Linked DNA regions of Homo sapiens: all the other regions are linked to region 3. The links come from fine-mapping of genetic effects on gene expression. A gene starts in region 3. Each other region holds a variant in brackets. All regions are shown on one strand. Distances are between the middles of the regions.

Region 1 (5,000 bases), 370 kb after region 3:
ACCTGCAGCCAGTGGTAATAAAAGCAAAGTGTCGGCCAGTCTACATTAAAGTAGAAGTGGGGATAGGAGTTGAGTGAGTCCTCTCCTCCAACCTACCCCTATTTTTGACAGTAAATTGTCAGAATGAAGCCCTTTACTTTCTTAAAGCAGTTTTCCGTTTCAAAATTTTCTCCCTTTTGCCATTATAAGCCATTCAGTATTTATAGACTCTCCAAACTTCCCAGGAAAATGAAGTGAGGAGGCCTTGGTGACTGTGATAGTGTATTGAGGAATTGCCTGGTGCCTGGTGATAAAGACTTGCAGAGAGAGGTTTTAGGAAAAGATACACTTGTCTCAGACCATGTATTAGAAAGCGGGAAAGAAGAGCTTGCCTGCGAAGAGCTGGCAGAAACTGTGGCGTGGCTCAGGTCTTACTGTCCTTTAATTGTATTATTGTTCAATTTTATAATTCTAATGGAAGATGTGGGCTTTTTACCACAGGGGGGAAAAAAGAAAAGAGGAGAGTCATTTCAATAAAATGCCTATTCAAAAGGTGTCCAGAATAAAAGCTAGGCAAACAGCCCACATCCAACCATAGGTCACCCCACTGTATGTTCATCTGTGCCCCTGAAGTAATTACCATTCTGAATTCTGTGCTTTTAATTTCTTTGCTTTTATTCCTTTTTTTTTTTTTTTTTGTCTGAGACAGAGCCTTGCTCTGTCGCCCAGGCTGGAGTGCAGTGGCACGATCTTGGCTCACTGCAACCTCTGCCTCTTGGGTTCAAACGATTCTGCTGCCTCAGTCTTCTGAGTATGAGTAGCTGGAGCTACAGGCGCACACCACCATGTCCAGCTAACTTCTGTATTTTTAGTAGAGATGGGGTTTCACCATGTTGGCCAGGTTGGTCTCGATCTCCTGACCTCGTGATCCACCCGCCTCAGCCTCCCAAAGTGCTGGGATTATAGGCGTGAGCCACCGCGCCCGGCCTGCTTTCATTTCTATATTGTTTTACGTAACATGTAATATTTTATTTATAATACAATGAAAATAATATTTTCTATGTTAGTTGTTTTTAACTTTATAGAAAGTATCAGATGCGATCTTTTGAGACTTACTCATTTCAATGACTCTTATTTTGCATAGATTAAAATTTGCTAACATTGAGAATTGCTAAGAATAAGTCTGAAGTTTCAGAGGAAGCCAGGGATAAGTTCTGAAGTTTCAGAGGTGTACCAGCTGGTGCATGAACTCTCCTCTTAGTCCAGCAGAGGGTGCAGAGCTCCCATCGGAGCAGGTGCTGTGCTGTACAGGATTATGCATGGCAGAAATTCATGGAACCAAAGGACATTAGAAAAAAGATGGGACAAGGAACTCAAATCATGGTTCCAATATACTGTTGACCAAAAGGACCAGACCACAACCAGATCCAACTAGACAGAGAAAACAAAATCGGGGAACGGAAGCCTAGAGAAATTGCTATGGGGGCTAGAATATAGAGGTTTGTACTGTCTTATATGAGATCTGAAATCTTACCCCAAAATGGGAAAGAAGCTCTTAGATAGTACTAAGTTTATGACACCTGGTTTATGACACCCTCATGTTGTTTTCTCAGTTTGGTTAGAAAGTCCATTGCTGCTCTTATTGTAAGGTGAGTCCTAGACATTCACAGCCCACCTCACACTCCACTGGATGTATTCCTTTCCAGAGCCCTGGAGACCATCTTCATGAATAATAGGAGCTTCATCTTATCCCGTTCTACTTTTGCTGGATCTGGCAAATTTGCTGCTCATTGGCTGGGGGACAATGCGGCCACATGGGATGACCTCCGATGGTCTATCCCCACTATCCTTGAGTTCAACCTGTTTGGCATCCCCATGGTGAGCCTTATTTCCAACCAGGGAACTTTAACCCTTTGTCTGTTGACATTCTTTTAATTAGCAGTCTTAGAGATTATCTGAAAAACCAAGGATCATGTTCCAAGGTGATATGTATTGGAAAGATCAATTTTTATGTGTTACGTGAGCTGCCTTCTGAAGATAGAATGGTAGTACTTTATCACTGAGTTGTCATCCATGGAATCTCTGAAGATAGGAAGGAGACAGCATGAATAAAATGTATTAGTATCACAGGAAAATTCCATCAAGAGAGCATTAGTAAATAAGAAAGTATGAAATTGGGAACTGAATATTAAGGAACAGCCTCAACACAAGGACCATTGTTTGCACTATCAGTAAGTCCGTGATGGATTCTATCTTGTTTCTCTCCTTTGGCTGGGAGTGTGCCCTGTGACTCTGGGATCTCCTTAAGCATGGGATGATGTGACAAAGAGGTTCTCTTTTCCCTTATCATATAAATCTTCACTACATGCTTTCGCCTCTCATTGACCACAGTGCTTGTATGTGTGCTAATTCTCCAGGTAGGTGCCA[A/G]CATCTGTGGTTATAACAACAATGTCACAGAGGAGCTCTGCAGAAGGTGGATGCAGCTTGGAGCATTTTATCCACTACCAAGGAATCACAATGGGCCTGGGTTCAGGGTAAGGTCACCAAAAGAAGTGATGGAAACTTTTTGGATTAGCTAATCTACTGGCTCTTAAAGGGGATTTGAGGAAAATAGTACTACAGGTTGGCACTAACTGCAGCAGAAGGATAAAAAAGTCTTGTATCATAGCCTTAAAAAGCAGGGTATCAATCAAGGTGAGGGTGCATTGGAAGGGATATGTATATACTGAAAGATTTTATTCTTGGAAACTCACCAACAAAGTGAGAAGATTTGTTAAAGTTTCTATGGTGCTGCCATGACTTCTGTTCTATCCTATATAGGATAGGACAATTGGAATTTGTTGGTATTTTATTTCAGTTAATACAAGGGAAATCCCTCATAGGTATGGAGGAACAAGGAGAAAGAATTTAAAGAGGCTTAGGCCAGTGATCTCAACATTTCTTTCCCCTTGTTACAACATTCTACCTTTCTATGAAGAGTTTGGAGGACTTGCCAACTACTTCTCATGACTCATTCCACCTTTAGGCTCGTCTACCCAAAATAGTATTTTCGATGGGCAAGTACATGGAAGTGGGTTCAAAGTCCCCCCTAAGGAGGTGTTTATGATGGTAGCAGAAGCAAGTAGGGTGAGATGTCCTTTCTTTTAATAAAGTAATCTTAAGTTGAAATATTTCCAATTGAGTGGTTTAGCTCTTAATAGGTTCATTAGAATAACTTCCTAATGATAATTTTAGCTCCAATTCTTGACTTTGTCTTTAACCCAGGAAGGATTAACAGTCAAACCTTCAAAGTATTTTATCCCTGGGCTTTTCTGGCCACTTGTGATCTAGAGAGAGATGAACTATTTCTAAATGTCTTAAGCAGGTGGCTGGGAGCAGGTGGGTGGGTGCTCTTCATGAAGCTGTGTCCTGGAAGACTTACATAGGTAAGAACACTCAGATAACCCAGGAAGCTAGGTTTAAGCACGTATGTCCTTTTGATTAAACTAGCTCTATTCAATAAAATTATAAGGAGAGCCACATATGTCAGTTTAAATTTGAAAAGTACAAAAAGGCTGGGCACGGTGGCTCACACCTGTAATCCCAGCACTTTGGGAGGCCAAGGTGGGAGGATCACCTGAGGTCCGGAGTTTGAGACCAGCCTGACCAACATGGAGAAACTCTATCTCTACTAAAAATACAAAATTAGCTGGGTGTGGTGGCGCATGCCTGTAATCCCAGCTACTTGGGAGGCTGAGGCAGGAGAATCTCTTGAACCGGGGAGGCAGAGGTTGTGGTGTGCTGGGATCGCGCCATTGCACTTCAGCCTGGGCAACGAGAGCAAAATTCCGTCTCAAAACAAAACAAAAAAAAAAACAAAGTACAAAGAAACAGGGACATTGTTTTAAAAATACTTTATATAGCTCAATGTGTATCTATATGTGTGTGTGTGTCTGTATATTACATAGCATTATCATTTCAACCTGTGTTTAATACAAAATATTATTAATGAGCTATTTTATATCCTTTTCATTCTACTAGGTCTTCAAAATTTGGTATGCATTTTACACTTGTAGCATATCGCAATTTGTATGCTAAGATTTTTTGTATGCAGTTGAAGTAAAATGCAATTCTACCAAAGCAATAAAGTTGGTTTAATGGAAAAAAAATTTACGTTGATTCAGTTTTAAGATTTATATTTAAAGTAACTATCATCAAATAAAATGGAAAGTTTACTTCCTCAGTCTCAATAAACATAGTTCAAGTGTTCAATAGCTTCATGTGGTTCATGGCCACCATAGTGGACAGCACAGCTCTGGGCTTTTGTCAGTTGACAACCAGGGTGATGGAGGCTGTGGAGTGTTACTCTCTTTAATGTTTGGCCTCAGAGTTTTCATGAGCCCTACACTGGGTGCATAGAGTGGTCTCATGGAGTCATTCTATTTAGAGGGGGAGAAATGGGCCTCTTAGGGAGCAAAAGAAAAAAAAGTTCAGGTAACTTTATCCAAAACTCAGTCTCAGTAACGCAGTATAGGATGACAAGTCAAAAGATGACGTGTATGTCTTTCACATCTTCCAAATTATATGGAAAATGAACAAAATGAATGCCGACCATTGACGGAAAATTTTCATCTCTGGGTCCATGGAAAATTAGATTTTTCTTCTAATGGGTTATTTTTTTACTCTTGGATAAAATCTGCTAAAAACCATCGTCATAATTTATTTGCACAATGTATGTCAAAGAACAAATAGAGGTCACTAATCTTTGGGATAGGGAAAATAAAACAAATGTTGATGGTGGAAACATTACAGATAAAACTGGACAAAAAATGTTAAAATTAAAATTCATACAAGCACATGGAAAGGAAATGATGGATTACAGACCATGGTGGCAGGCAATGTGGCTTATAAGGCAATGGATTTTTTTTTAGTAGTAGTACAACTTATATTATTTCCCAAATAAAATATGAGAAACCTCAATATGTAAAATAAATTGGAGCAACCCTGGAGGGAGCAAGTCCCACTTTATCTCCATGGCAACC
Region 2 (5,205 bases), 31 kb before region 3:
CCCAATGGGATTCTAAGCTTCAGTTCAAATTGAAGGGGGTTGCTGAGCAGTGGTTAGTGTCTAACCTAAACATCTTTAAGACTAACCTACCTTCTTCATATCTTTTGTTTTTGGACAGTTTCATTACTAGCATTGATGAAACATAGTTTACCAGCAATAAGGACCTGAAATATAACTAGAGATGAAATCGTTCATCTCCAGGTGATGCCACAGGAGCTGTGGTTCTATTCTATCTTTCTCTGCCCCTCTTATCTATCCTTTTAGAGTCTTCTTCAGAACTCTTGGGGAAGGTAGAAGAGGATCCTCTTAACAACCTCTGTCAGTGCCTCCCTTAGAGCCTTAGGTCCTACATTTTCCTTTTATTTTTCCACATGAATCATTATGTACATCATGTAATCTTACTTTTTATTACAAGATTCAGGAAATTTTAGAATACTAATAATTTGCCAATAAAGATGAAATAGTAACTCAGTTTTTCAGTGCATCTTTTGCTCTTTAAAGTTTACATCAGCCCTCCCGAGGTCTGCCTGCCAGTTTGCTGCTGTATCCCAGAGGTTGGCTGCCACTGTGCAGGTTGTTTTGTTCAAATGGTAGAAGTCTCTCGTACTGTCTAGGCCACTCTGTCTCCAGTTTGGCCTCTGACCCAGCCTATATATTTGCTTCCCAGCCTACATGTTCTGTCCTCTCTGCCTGAGAGTACGAGTACAGTGCTAACTGTAGCTTAGGTCATATTGGACTTTATTAGGTTCAGAATTCCCAAGCTATGTTATAGGTCTGTGACTTTTTTGTTTTAAGGTATTTTCTGCACACTTGAGTAGCTTTTTTTATACCTACAATGCATTTTGGTTGAGGAAAGATGGAATTTTTTAGCTTTATCCTCTCCTTGCTCAGGAACAGTAGAAAATTCATTGCTGTTTTCTCCTGCCAGCCATCTTTCTTTTTCCTGCAGCTGGGACAGTTAATCAGCATATTAACTCTGCTCTCTTAAGTTCACACATTAAAACTGCCTGGTGATGTAGTCTTTATTCCTTCATGCCACATTCCTTAAGCAAAATTGGGCAGTATATAAAATTTATCTTTTTAGCAACTCTTTCTTCTATCAGCACAGCAGCTTTTATACTCCTTAAGTGTTGTGAGAAATTATGCAGATTAACAGTCCTGTTTAAGCAGGGTAATAAATCTCTGCTTTGGGAAAATGACATGGTGAACAGAAGAGCTTAATTACCAACCTGGAGCAGTTTCTCAGCCCTGAATGCAGGGGTGGAAGAGGATGCTGTGCTGGATCATTGTGAGCCGAGGGGCTCTGCTTTAAACTCTCCCCTGGAGGTTGCCTCTTCTCTCCATGCCTCTGAAAGGCTGTGGAGCTGAAGCAGTGGTGCTTTATCAGACTTAGGTGTGTAGCATGCAGTCTTCAGCATGCGTATGATTCTAGCAGAATGATTCTCGCCTCAAGTCAGTCAGACTTGCTAGGGAAACTTTGCCTACCCCTGGGAAGCCCTATCTGCTGAGAAACTTTCTCCTGCTCCCTAGCTGGTCTAGGAAGAGCGCATTTGGAAATATGATAGCAGTAAATAGCAGTAAAAGACTAGGGGTCTTCTAACCCAAGTTTTGGGTCTTGCATTTCCCTTTTTGATGTGATAGTGTCAGGGAATAAACCTCAGAAAACTGCACTGTGACCTCGATTTGGAGTTTCCTGTTAAATGGTAAGATGAATAGTATACCTAGAAGAATGGGAGAAAAAGTTTCAAACAGTATGTCTGGGGTATCCCATTTTTGAAAAAGAAGTTGTAATGAAGATAGGCTTAATGTCTGGAGGGAGAAACATGAGGATGTTATTATCTCTAGAGAGGGTGATTATGCGTGATTTTCCTTGTTTCTTTACAGTTTTTTAAATATATATTTTAGCATTGAACATATATTACTTTTATAATAAAAAAATAAAACTTTTTATCTGGGGAAAAAAACCTTTCCATTATTTCTGAGCCAGACTAATTTACTCATTCACTTTTAGTGAGTACCACTTTACTGGATATGAATGAGAAAATCTTTTATATATTTTCCCCCACTATCTGTATTTTAGCATCTCATGCTTTTATAATTCATTCATCTGTTAATACGTGTACACAGCCCAAAATGATTTACTTTGAATACCAACCTAGCCAGGCGCAGTGGCTCATGCCTGTAATCCCAGCACTTTGGGAGGCCAAGGCGGGTGGATCACGAGGTCGGGAGATCGAGACCATCCTGGCTAACATGGTGAAACCCCGTCTCTACTGAAAATACAAAAAATTAGCTGGGTGTGGTGGTGGGCGCCTGTAGTCCCAGCTACTGGGGAGGCTGAGGTGGGAGAATGGCATGAACCCAGGAGGCGGAGCTTGCAGTGAGCCGAGATCACACCACTGTACTCCAGCCTGGGCGGCAGAGCCAGACTCCATCTCAAAAACAAAACGAACAAACAAA[C/A]AAAAAAACCAACCTATATGAGATCTACTGTTTGCTGCCTTTACAGTTCTCAAAGAATCAATCATTTCTTAAAACACACTGGACATTTTATTCAAAGATGATCCAAAAACACCAAAGATATATTTCTGTGGCAGTTTTGGCAATAGAGTATACATTTCTTTAGGAATTACTTGTCATTGCAATGTGGATTACAGCCTAACTTTTGCAGCCAAGTTAGGAGAAATTAGTGCTGTTTTCCCTTTGTTCCCTAATGAGATCATGGCAATTCTTGAAGGCAGGGTTTTCTTTTACTAAAACCACCCTTTTTCCCCAATCTAACTCAGCCTCACACAGTGACATGGAGATTGATAAATGTTTGTCATTCGGTTAGGTGGGACTTGAAAAGAAAATGAGGGCAGGATCACCTTGCTATTTTTCTGTTAGAGTTTGCATAATATTCTGTGAAGATTTGTGGGAGTAACAGCAAGAAAATCGTTGTGGAAAATGAGAGGCAAGTCCAAGGTTAATGAATTACAGGGAAATCTCTTAAAGATGTAACAATAATCATATTAATGACTGTCATTTCTCTTCTGGTTACTATGTACCGAGCTAAGCTAAGTACTTTTTATCATTGTCTCATTTAGCCATTATCCTAAGAAGAAGGTACAATAATCCCATTTTACAGGTGAGGAAACCCAAAACTGGGAGAGGTTAAATAACTTGTCAAAGTCATGCATCTTCCAGGATGCACACCTGGAGGTTGAACTCAGGTATGTGAAGTTTGCATTTTGCTTTCTGCCCAATGCCTGCCTCCACTTGCATTCATTCTCCACTGGCCCTCCGTATCCACAGATTCCCGCAACCAACTGTATTTGTCTGTTTTCACACTGCTATGAAGATACTACGTGAGACTGGGTAATTTATAAACGAGAGGTTTAATTAACTCACAGTTCCGCATGGCTGGGGAGGCTTCAGGAAATTTATGGTCGTGGCAAAAGGTGAAGGGGAAGCAGGCACCTTCTTCACAAGGCAGCAGGAGAGAGAGGGCACAGGGGAAACTGCTACTTTTAAAACCATCAGATCTGGGGAGAATTCCCTCACTATCAGGACAACAGCACAGGGGAAACCACCCCCATGATCCAGTCACCTACCAGGTCCCTACCTTGACACGTGGGGATTACAATTTGAGATGAGATTTGGGTGGGGACATAACCAAACCATATCATCCTGCCCCAGCCCCTCCCAAATCTCATGTCCTTTTCACATTTAAAAACCAATCATACCTTCTCAACAGTCCCCCAAAGTCTTAACTCATTCCAGCATTAACTCAAAAGTCCAAGTCCGAAGTCTCATCTAAGACAAGCCAAGTCCCTTCCACCTATGAGCCTGTAAAATAAAATTAGTTACTTCTAAGATACCATGAGGGTACAGGCATTGGGCAAATGTTTCCAGTCCAAATGGGAGAAATTGACCAAAATAAAGGGGCTACAGGCCTCATGCAGGTCTGAAAACCCGGCAGAGCAGTCGTTAAATCTTAAAGCTCTGAAATCATCTCCTTTGATTCCACGTCTCACATGTAGGCCACCCCAGGGCATGCTGATGCAAGAGGTGGGCTCCAACAATCTTGGTCTTGGGCAGCTGCCCCTGCGTTCCTGTGGCTCAGCAAGGTACAGCCCCTGTGTCCACTTTCATGGGCTGGTGTTGAATGCCTGCAGCATTTCTAGGCACTTGGTGCAAGCTGTCAGTGTATCTACCTTTCTGGGGTCTGGAGGATGGGTGCCCCCTTCTCACAGCTCCACTAGGCAATGCCCCAGTGGGGACCCTGTGCAGGGGCTACAACTCCACATTTTCCTTCCACACTGCCATAGCAGAAGTTCTCCTTGAGGGCTCCTTTTAGCCGTGGCTGGTGCTGGATCCACTGGGATGCATGGAACCAAGTCCCGAGGTTGCACAGAGCAGTTGGGCCCTGGGTCTGGCCCAGGAAACCATTTTTCTCTCCAAGACCTCTGGGCCTGTGATAGGAGGGGCTGCCAAGAAGGTCTTTGACATGCCCTAGAGACATTTTCCCCATTGTCTTGACTATTAACATTCGGCTCCTTGTTACTTATGCAAATTTCTTCAGCCAGCTTGAATTCCTCCTCAGAAAGTTGGTTTTTCTTTTCTACCACATGGTCAGGCTGCACATTTTCCAAACCATTATGCTCTCCTTCTCTTAAATATAAGGTTCAGTTGGGCATCTTCTATATATCATGCACCCATATAGGACCTGAATGTAGGGATGTATATAACAGGATTCCTGCACTGAAGGAATTCACAATTAAGCTTATGAGGGGTTAGGGAGGATAAGCAGAAACTTTTATAGCTAACTGTGATAGGGTGTGAGGAGTAGCTTAGAAGAGAATGGATAGGTGAGCTTTCAGCAGAGGAAACAGCATGAGCAAAGATCCAGAAACAAAAGTTTATGAAACAAAGGTGAGGCATGGAAAGTGGGTTGGGGCTAGATAGTAAAGGGCCTTGAAAGCTTTCAGAGAACTTTGGCAATGGGGAGCAATAGAAGGTTTGAAAACAAGGACATCTTATCAGAATTGTGCGTTAGGAGAACAACAAAGACAGAGTGAAGGGCTAGAAGGAGAAAGCCTAGAGGCAGTTAGGAAGCTCTAATAAGCCTAGAAAGGTTAGCAAGAATGGGGATGAGAGGTGACTTGAGGGGCGTTTGGGATTCAAGTTGATTTGACAAATAGTAATTGTGTACCAATTTTGTGCTGG
Region 3 (5,205 bases):
CTCCTGCCTCAGCCTCCTGAGTAGCTGGGACTACAGGTGTGTGCCACCATGCCCGGCTAATTTTTGTATTTTCAGTAGAGATGGGGTTTCACCATGTTGGCCAGGCTGGTCTCGAATTTCTAACCTCAAGTGATCCACCCGCCTCGGCCTCCCGAAGTGCTGGGATTATAGGCGTGAGCCACCGCGCCCGGCCCATGCTTTCCCTTTTTATAACATGAGGTACCTTGCATTTGCCACTGTTAAATTCTCAGACTGTCTTACTTAGGTTTTGTGGAGTTAGGTCGGGTGGAAGTAGGATTTCAGGAGACTGTGCTCTAGGCTGTCTGGATTTTAGTTCTTTCCTTCGGAAGGCCATTCTGTAATTGTGTCTCTGTACCTAATGTCAGATCCCAGGCCAGTGTCAGGTAGATGTAAGTGACGGTGGGACCGTTACCTTCAAGAACGTTTCTTCTGGTCACAGCTGTAACATCTTTACCAGAGAAGGGATTTCAGACAGTAACAAAACTGAGTGGTGAGAAGTGAAATGCTCTGCCATAATACTGATACCGTCCCCAGGGATTCTGACACAGCCAGCAGCAGTACGTGTTCATCAGCACTGAAGCAGGGCACCTCCTGATTCAGCAGAGAGACCCTCCCCTCCCCAGCCATGTTGGCGGCTGCCCTAGGATTGCTGATGCCCATTGCAGGGGCTGAATTTCTCATTGGCCTGGTTGGAAATGGAGTCCCTGTGGTCTGCAGTTTTAGAGGATGGGTCAAAAAAATGTAAGGAGTCCCTATAAATTCTCATGATTCTGGTAAGTAGCCACTTTCTCCTACTCAGGCCGATCATGTTGGACATAAGTCTGTTTCCACTTTCCCAGAGCAGTGGTTGGCTTTACTATCTTAATGTCTTCGAGTCCTGGTAAGCCAGGCCAACATGTAGTTTGCCACTTTCTTCAGTGGCTTCTGCTGCATGGAGATCATGACCTTTGTCCCGCTGACTTCTTGTAGCTGAAAAGACTGGGTTTTTGTTTTTTGCTAGTGTCTTTCAAGATCACTTTTTATTTCTCAGCTCTTGTTGGCTGGACCCTTTAAAAACCCTTAACAGGAAACAGCAACATCCTGCATCCCATTTTAAATCTGTTATTTTTATAGATTGCTGTCCAGTGAAGGAGACTGATTGCTATTTGTGATGTTTCTGTTCCACTTGTCTTTTTGTAAAGACATCACAGGAAGATGGAGGACCACACAGCTGTCAGGAGGAGGCTCAAACCAAGGTGCTCATCGCTCTGAACTTCCCCCTTTACATGGTTTCTGCCTTGGCCAGACACTTTTCCATGACCTTCTAATCTCCCTCTGATCTCACCATTCTTGCCATCTCTGCAACACTCATGGCTGTTTATACTTCATTTCCGTCTATTGTAATGGTTATGAGGAATCAGACTTGTCAGAGAATTCTGTAGGAGATGATATGTACATGGAAATCCTAGAGGCCATGACTTGGAAGAAGGATCTAATCAGGCCCTTAACTGTATCACTGACAACAGTAAAAATAACTGTAGATTTTAGAAAAATGAAATTTTTATTCTCAATTCTCCTCATTTCTTCTTTGATTTTGAAACAAAATGAAAGGGTAACATGAAAAACAGGCTAGAAACTGGAGCTTATTGCTCTCTAAGCAATGCAAATCACATCATTTTAATAAACTACAGAAGTCAAAACCGAGTTTTCATATTTTGCATGGGAAGTATCACATTTTTAAAAATTACTGCAGATAATCAAGTTTTCTTTGCCAATATGCTATGTTTTTGATAAAAGGAAGTAGAAAATAGCTATAGTTTGAAAATAATATATTTTAAAAAGAGGTGAGCCTGTATATTTTTTAGGCAAGCACTTTTCTTAGGGGAATTAGCTAAATTATTATCTCAATTTTCTATGTAGTTTAGCCTCTCAACACCGGTAGTAAAGTAGTCAAAAACCTACCTTTATATTTCTGGATACTTTGGTTTTTTTGATGCCAGACTAGCTTTCTGGAAACGTGTCAGTTGGCTACCAGGATCGGTGGCAAATTCCACTGCCAGGCTAGATTGGGGCAGGTGGGGAGAGAGAGGCACTATGTCTCTATCAGAAAGTCACTGAAGAAACACTGTTTTTGGACGAGTTCAAGCCTCATCTAGATTTTTAGTCCAGTAGAAGATCGCGACCACCTCTGCCCCTCCATAGCCTACAGCCAGAGTTTTAGAGTACCAGGCCTTGCAGCTTGGTGGAGATGATGTACAATGGATGCTACCTGGAGGCAGGGACTGTGTATTATAATGGCGCCGTCCCCTGTGCCTAGTACACCGTAGTTTGACACAAAATAAGCACTTTGTAAATTTAGTCCGAAGGAATGGAAATCTCATCCTACAATCCATTCAGTTATTAATAGAGCAACTGAGGCCCAGAGACGGGCAGTGGCCTGCCTGCCTACAGCTTCGTAGAGAGTTCTCAGCATGCTTACTTTTTTTTTTTGAGATGGAGTCTTGCTCTGTCGCCCAGGCTGGAGTGCAGTGGCGCGATCTTGGCCCACTGCAGCTTCCATCTCCTGGGTTCAAGTGGTTCTCCTGCCTCAGCCTCCCGAGTAGCTGGGACTACAGGCAGCCACCACCACGCCCAGATAATTTTTGTATTTTTAGTAGAGATGGGGCTTCACCATGTTGGCCAGGGTGGTCTCGAACTCCTGGCTTCAGGTGATCCACCCGCCTTGGCCTCTCAAAGTGTTGGGATTACAGGTGTGAGCCACCATGCCTGGCCCAGTGTTCTTTTCATGAAAATAAAATTTCTTTTTTTATATAGCATATGAGCTCATAACTGGCACTGTATAGCACCTGAGCATGTTTTGATTTGGTCTTTCTTGTTGAGGGGCCTTGTTACGTTATACCCTGGTGTCTAGACTTTGGCCCAAAACCTTTGAGATGGAGAGCCGGTGTCTGTGGTACTGTTTGCAATCTCTGGTTCTACACTCAGGGTTCATTCATGTAGATGCAAATACAGATGGTATCATAACTTCCAACCTCTCTGTTCCTCATCACAGCTGTTCAGTCTCGCTTGAAGACAGATTACGGAAGGACGAGGCCAAATCCAGATTTTGTGGTGTGAAAATTTACCCTGGTGTGTTATCACTACCAGGGGATCTGACCTCAGCCAGGAGCAGTGAGAGCCTCCTCTCCCCAGCCATGCTGAGCGCTGGCCTAGGACTGCTGATGCTGGTGGCAGTGGTTGAATTTCTCATCGGTTTAATTGGAAATGGAAGCCTGGTGGTCTGGAGTTTTAGAGAATGGATCAGAAAATTCAACTGGTCCTCATATAACCTCATTATCCTGGGCCTGGCTGGCTGCCGATTTCTCCTGCAGTGGCTGATCATTTTGGACTTAAGCTTGTTTCCACTTTTCCAGAGCAGCCGTTGGCTTCGCTATCTTAGTATCTTCTGGGTCCTGGTAAGCCAGGCCAGCTTATGGTTTGCCACCTTCCTCAGTGTCTTCTATTGCAAGAAGATCACGACCTTCGATCGCCCGGCCTACTTGTGGCTGAAGCAGAGGGCCTATAACCTGAGTCTCTGGTGCCTTCTGGGCTACTTTATAATCAATTTGTTACTTACAGTCCAAATTGGCTTAACATTCTATCATCCTCCCCAAGGAAACAGCAGCATTCGGTATCCCTTTGAAAGCTGGCAGTACCTGTATGCATTTCAGCTCAATTCAGGAAGTTATTTGCCTTTAGTGGTGTTTCTTGTTTCCTCTGGGATGCTGATTGTCTCTTTGTATACACACCACAAGAAGATGAAGGTCCATTCAGCTGGTAGGAGGGATGTCCGGGCCAAGGCTCACATCACTGCGCTGAAGTCCTTGGGCTGCTTCCTCTTACTTCACCTGGTTTATATCATGGCCAGCCCCTTCTCCATCACCTCCAAGACTTATCCTCCTGATCTCACCAGTGTCTTCATCTGGGAGACACTCATGGCAGCCTATCCTTCTCTTCATTCTCTCATATTGATCATGGGGATTCCTAGGGTGAAGCAGACTTGTCAGAAGATCCTGTGGAAGACAGTGTGTGCTCGGAGATGCTGGGGCCCATGATCTGGGAAGAAAAGTGTGGTCAGGACACTCTTGGGACGCTCTTTTGATAGCTCTCTATAAGGGAGCTGCTTTCCATGTCTTTTAAGATTTTCCTTCTTTTACACCAATGTAATGAATGAGCAACAGAAAATACGGATCAAAACCCAATACTATGTCTCTTTTGGCAATGCAAAGTATATTTTTTTAATGTACCACAGAAATCAAGGCTAGGGCTTCATGTTTGGTAAAAGAGGTATTATATTCTCTCTACATATAGCAAATAATTCATATATAAATCGTGTTTTTCCTATTATAAAAAGCAGAGATTAGGAACAATTCTGTCTACATATAGCAAAAATTCATATATAAATTGTGTTTTTCCTAGTATAGAAAACAGAGATTAGGAACAATTATAGTGATCATTAATTTTTATGAAATTTTACCTATACATTAATGTTAGTCATTTTAGATATGCTTTTTAAAAAGTATCAAATAATTTCCCCATTTCTCTGCTGTAATGTATCTAATTATCTAACTGAAAAACAAAACAAAACATCTTTATATTTCTGGAAGTTTCTTTGAGCCCTAGCCTTGGCTTTCAGAATAAAAATCAGGCTCACGCCTGTAATCCCAGCGCTTTGGGAGGCTGAGGCGGGCGGATCACGAGGTCAAGAGATCAAGACCAAATTAGCCGGGCGCGGTGGCGGGCGCCTGTAGTCCCAGCTACTCGGGAGGCTGAGGCAGGAGAATGGCGTGAACCCGGGAAGCGGAGCTTGCAGTGAGCCGAGATTGCGCCACTGCAGTCCGCAGTCCGGCCTGGGCGACAGAGCGGGACTCCGTCTCAAAAAAAAAAAAAAAAAGAGATCAAGACCATCCTGGCTAACATGATTAAACCCCATCTCTACTAAAAATACAAAAAATTAGCCTGGTGTGTTGGCGGGCACCTGTAGTCCCAGCTACTCGGGAGGCTGAGGCGGGAGAATGGCATGAACCCAGGAGGTGGAGATGGCAGTGAGCCGAGACCATGCCACTGCACTCCAGCCTGGGCAACAGAGCGAGATGCCGTCTCAAAAAAAAAAAAAAAAGCAGAATAAAAGTCAGTTGGATGCCATGATCTGTATTAAGCTCCAAG
Region 4 (5,205 bases), 74 kb before region 3:
TGGTTGTAGCCACTGCAAAGATCTGAATCTTAAGGGCTTAGAGTACTAATTTTCAATCTCATTACCGCACTTCATGAAGCACTTCTCAGTTAGTGCTTTATTTTAAGTGAAATTAAAAACTTTTTTCATGTTTAAATAGTCTATGAAATCTTTTCCTTACAAGGTGATTATTTCTGAAACACTGATGAACTGCTGAATAATGAACTATATATTCCTTAAGATTTAGAATTCACTTCTGTACCACTTGGCATCTAACCCAGCATCTGCTACATAGTAGGCACCAAACAAATATTTGGATGAATAATTGAGGGGAAGTTAAAGCATAAGCTCTGAGAATATAGTCATTTTTATTTGTCTAAACTTAATGTCCATGTCTTTAAAAACTGGAGATAGGACTACAACTGGTTTTCATAGCTAGCTAACAGAATTGCCCAGGGGAAGGGGTTGGAGCTTGACTAAAGTACAGATTCCTGTGTTGACTTCATGAATCAGAATATCTAGAGGTAGAGACTGGGATTCTATAGTTTTCATAAGAGGAGCAGTTACAATGCAACCAGTTCACATGGAACCAGATAATTTCTAAGGCCCCTTCAGCAAAAGCATTCTTAGATTCAAATATTAACTAGCTAACTGATAAGGAATGTCTTTACTAATGCTATTATGACTTGCCTTTTGTCATCCTCATTCAGACCATGCTGAGCCGGTTGGTGATTTCTCCAACAGGGAAGCTTCCTTCCAGAGGCCCTAAGCATTTGAAGCTCACACCTGCTCCCCTCAAGGATGAGATGACCTCATTGGCTCTGGTCAATATTAATCCCTTCACTCCAGAGTCCTATAAAAAATTATTTCTTCAATCTGGTGGCAAGAGGAAAATAAGAGGAGATCTGTAAGTGCTCTATTACTTATGACTTTTGAGAACTGACCCTACTACAGTCAAGTAGTAAGAAGTGAGTGTTAAAGTAAGATTAGGAACGAGAACTCTATTTGAATGAAATGTATATGCTTACATATTCTCCCCTTCCTAGATATCAATGCTGGTTTTACCTGCTTTATCACAGAGATTCCAACATCTTTCCATTCTGATATGTACTGTAGATGCTTTCTCTATAAAAGGATAAGACAGAATAAGCAATAGATCTCTGGCTTCTATTAGGAAGTTGAGTGGGCTATGGAATTGCATTCAAGGGGTCCCCTCTGGTTAATATGAGGCTGGCAGTTGGGGAACGTGTAGCTCAAACTTCAAAGAGTACGTTGCTGCTTTGAGTCTTGTGTGACTAGTGATGAAAGCTATAGAGCAAGGATTTGAACTTCTCTGTGGGTGATGGAAGATTGGCTGAAGCAAAAAAGCATTGCTTTCAGAGCTGCTAAAGAATAGAAAGCCAAACTGTACTATTCCATAAAGGGCCCTGAATGACAGAAATCATCCAAATAAGGATTGTGCATATTACTCAGGAACATTACTATGTCTCTCCAAGGCTTTTTTATAGAATGGAATCGCCTCCAAAGTGGGGCAGTCATTTATGTTCATATGTACTCAGCGAAATAAATGGACAGCTAACAATGTAAACTTTGCAGAGCATTTAATGTGCTATGTCAAGTTGTTTCTTTGGAGTCAATGAGTATGTGTTAATCAGTCTTTGACCAGAATAGGTTCTCTCAACACTATCTCCTTCTTACTTAAATAAACAGGACTTCAGCACAAGTCCACCCACCTACTTTGGCTACCAAGAATTCGATTGGTTTTAGTTCTTAAGGAGTCTCTGTAAATCATTATACTCTCACCGAAGCCAGCAACAAAGACAGCTAATATGAAATCCTGACACTTTTGTAGCGTCATTTGGTGCTTCTAAGAGAGTATTTTTCCTTATTTTTATAATTTATAAACACTTCATAAAGTATTACAATGTGGTACTAAATCACAAATACCAAGCATTGATTTATTTCCATGAATGTAGTGCCTTCCATTTGCCATTTCTACCTTGTGTTTCTCCAAAAGAAAAATCTATAGCTAGTTGAAATCTTGCTTAAGGATCCAGAATACAAGTATGCATGGCAAAGAGGATGTCTGCTGGTCACTTAGCTTATCGAAGAGTAATTGAAAATATCTCATCCCGGGTTAGAGCAGATTCTGCCCTACTTGCAGTCTACCTGTGAACCGATTACAAAGCCAGATTCTAGGGGAGGGGTGGGTGTCGGAAAGAGAGTGTGGTGTGGCAGTGAGGAGCAAATGCTTTGGTGTCAGACCTGGCTCCAAGTCCCAGTTCTGCCACTTGCTAATTGTTTGACCTAGAGTTATTTAACCTCTCTCTGTCTTGGTTTCCTAGTTTGGGGATAAAGATACCCATTTAACAGTTGCACATATGTTCTGTGCTCTCTTGCTCCAGCACATGGTGTTTTACCTGCTGAAAACCTCACTCTTTTCCCTTAGCTAGTTCCTACTCGTTCCCAGAATCTTGGCTTATATATTCTCTCTTCTGGGAAAGCTTTTCACTCTTGAAATAATTGAGTGCTGTCCATGGTATCCTTGTTATCTTATCCAGTTCTAGGTTCTTGTATTGAAATTTCCTGGTTATCCCTGCCTCCACATATAAACCGAAGAGAAATGAATTGTCTTATTTACTCTTACATCCCTAGAACCTAGCATAGTTCGGCCTCAATAAATATTAATTATATATTGATAAACTTTTTTTTTCTTTTTTAAGTGAGGAAGCTGGTCCAGAGGAAGGCAAGGGAGGGCTGCCTGCCAAGGTAAGCGTAGTTCTTTGTCCCAGCGGCCACAATATAGGCAGTTTATCCTATTCTTTCTCTTCTTCCCCTCCCCTTCTCCCTCTCTCTCCTCCCTCCTCCCTTCTTCCCTACCCTCCCTTTTCTCCTTCCTCACCCTCCCCTCCTCTCCTTCACCCTGCACCCTCCCTCCCCTTCTTCTACCCTCTCCTTCTGCCCTTCTCCTTCTGCCCTCTCTTCCCCATCTCCCCTCCTCCCCTCCTTTCTCCTACTCTCCTTCTCTCCTCCCCTCCCCATCTCACCCCATCTCACACGCTAGCTTTGTAAATGTGCTTTGCAGCTGAATTTATCTGGACCCTAGTCAGGGTCTGTGTTCTCAGCTAGTTGTAACT[C/T]TGCCAGGCAGTGTCTGATATGTATATGCTGGATCATTACTTTAGAGTAATTTTAAAATTACATATTTCTGCTACTATTTTAATCTGGAGAAAAACTCTACACTCATGGGGTAGAGAAGTGAAGGGAAAATTAAGATATTTTTGGTCTCAAAATAGAAAAAGATAATGGAAAAAAGGGGCATAGAGCCAGAGATTTATATGTAAAATTTTAGCTCTTAAATGTATCAATATTTGATTTTATAATGTTCACAATCTTTGATCCATCCCTCATTTGATAATCTAACCTAAGAAAATAATACTGCAAACATTATCCTTAGAGATGTTTATTGTAACAGCAAAAAAGGGGGGAGACCAAATGCCTGATAATAGAAAAATGGCTAAGCTAATTACAGTTTTAAGTCAGTGAAATACTAAATTGCCATTAAGATGTTTATAACACCTTGAAAACATGCGTATGTTAATGTTTAGTGTGCAAAAGACTCAAAATTTTATACGCTGAATGACCATAACTATCTATTGCACATTAATCACAGGGAGAATGAAATGGAGCTATAACCACTGCTATTTCAACATTTTTGAATGGTGGAAACTTCATATTTGTTTTTCCTTTAAATTTTTAAAGTTTTCTGAAGCAAGTTTTATTTGCGTAAATAAATATGTTAATATGTTAAAATGTTAGCACTTGGCTATTGTAAACATCACAGAAAAGGCGGCCACTGGCACAGGTGTTCCTTCAAATGCAAATGTTTCTGACTTATGCCTCCATTATTTTACTGTTGGATTTTATTCCTCACTTATTTTATAATTTATCTCTTGATTTCAGATAGAAATTCTAATATTTATTGAACATTAAATAAGTGCAAAGCATTGTATTTAGTTACACCCTTTAAGGAAAAACATCTGGCCAAACAGGAGTTAAAACCTTTGAAATTTCAAAACAATCTATATGTAAATTAGAAGCTATGAGATATATGTATTTGTGTATATGTGTATGTACATATGTGCAATGTGAATATACATATGCGTGTATATCTTTAAAATCTAGAAGTGGTTAGTAAATACTTCTATGAAATAGAGCTTGGGTAGGAAGAGATTGTATATTAAGATAATTTTAGGCTAAGGAAGTAAATAACTTTTAATGCTATCAAGGCAGGAGAACAGAGTTCAGGTGTAAGAGGGGTATGGTGGGTGGGGAGTGGTCAGGGATAGATGCAGATGGTATACTGGCTTCATTGGTATCTAGGGGGAGGGTAGTCAAGTAGTGAGTGCGCAGTTGGTAGAAGGTCTTGAGGCTTTCTTATCAAGAGTTTGAATTTCTCATGGGAAACAATTAGGCATCTCTGATTCTGTGGTATCATTTTGCAAAAATAATTCTTACTATTAGAAGAGTTAAAGAGAGGGCTGGTAGCTGTAGCCAATCCAGACAAGAAGGGAACAGAGCTTGAGACTGGCTAAGGGTAATGAAAATTAAGAGATCTTGCTGATGAAAGTGACCAGAATTAGATGTTGAAAATGAGGAAGTAGTAAAACCCAAGATTTTTCAAACTCATAAAGTTGGAGAAAAATTCTTCAGGATTGGGACACTGAGAAAAGATGACTTTGGGAGATAAATCAGCTTGGATTTAGATTCATATAAATTTATGGAGATTTTTGGTCATAATAGTTTAATGAGAATTTACTATGTACTTGACACTATCCTAAGATATATTACAATATATGTAATACTGTATATTCTCATGTAATATTTAAAAGAACCCTGAAGAGTGTTGCCATGATCTTCATCCTACAGATAGGAAAACTGAAAGGAGTTCAGATTGGCCTGGGGTTATTTACTACCTGGGCAATGAATGATGTTGCTAGTTGGCCAGTAGCGGGAGTGGTTGCTAGACCTGAGCACATAGTCTGAACTAACCAAAATTGTCAAAGTTTGACAATTTTGACAAAATCATTTCTCCAGGCTGGTATTTTTGGGAAAAGAAACAGAAAACAAGTATGCTTATTCAGCTTGAGATGGAAACATTAGCATTCAGACTTTAAGACACATAAAGAAGGGGGGTCTTTCATTTCTTTTAATTTGCTCCACCCAGGT

Alleles and levels. Positions count from the first base shown, and alleles are read on the strand shown. Sizes are in standard deviations (SD) of each study's normalised expression. Not every link is listed here.
For the expression in nucleus accumbens of the gene that starts at base 3,050 in region 3, A is the high allele of the variant in region 1 and G is the other (large effect, 1.1 SD a copy in GTEx).

The links.
Region 1: its variant is fine-mapped to the expression of TAS2R5 in nucleus accumbens (GTEx, PIP above 0.99).
Region 2: its variant is fine-mapped to the expression of TAS2R5 in whole blood (TOPMed, PIP above 0.99).
Region 4: its variant is fine-mapped to the expression of TAS2R5 in spleen (GTEx, PIP 0.98).

What each region holds. Positions count from the first base shown.
Region 1 is chr7:142,152,333-142,157,332 of GRCh38, forward strand. It overlaps MGAM2 (maltase-glucoamylase 2 (putative)), which reads left to right. Exons shown (of 48, transcript NM_001293626.2): 16 at 1,686-1,857; 17 at 2,397-2,513. Among named protein-coding and RNA genes, the nearest start is that of MGAM2, 43 kb to the left of the region's middle. The variant A/G (reference allele first, on the strand shown) is at 2,407.
Region 2 is chr7:141,756,161-141,761,365 of GRCh38, forward strand. No RefSeq gene overlaps it. Among named protein-coding and RNA genes, the nearest start is that of TAS2R3, 5.3 kb to the right of the region's middle. The variant C/A (reference allele first, on the strand shown) is at 2,461.
Region 3 is chr7:141,787,168-141,792,372 of GRCh38, forward strand. TAS2R5 (taste 2 receptor member 5) reads left to right here and starts at 3,050. Exons shown (of 1, transcript NM_018980.3): 1 at 3,050-4,200. The coding sequence starts at 3,195. The coding sequence ends at 4,094. It also overlaps the pseudogene TAS2R6P.
Region 4 is chr7:141,713,520-141,718,724 of GRCh38, forward strand. It overlaps WEE2 (WEE2 oocyte meiosis inhibiting kinase), which reads left to right. Exons shown (of 12, transcript NM_001105558.1): 2 at 690-886; 3 at 2,703-2,748. All of the region lies in intron 3 of WEE2-AS1 (WEE2 antisense RNA 1), which reads right to left. Among named protein-coding and RNA genes, the nearest start is that of WEE2, 7.8 kb to the left of the region's middle. RefSeq lists a silencer at 1,596-1,796. The variant C/T (reference allele first, on the strand shown) is at 3,117.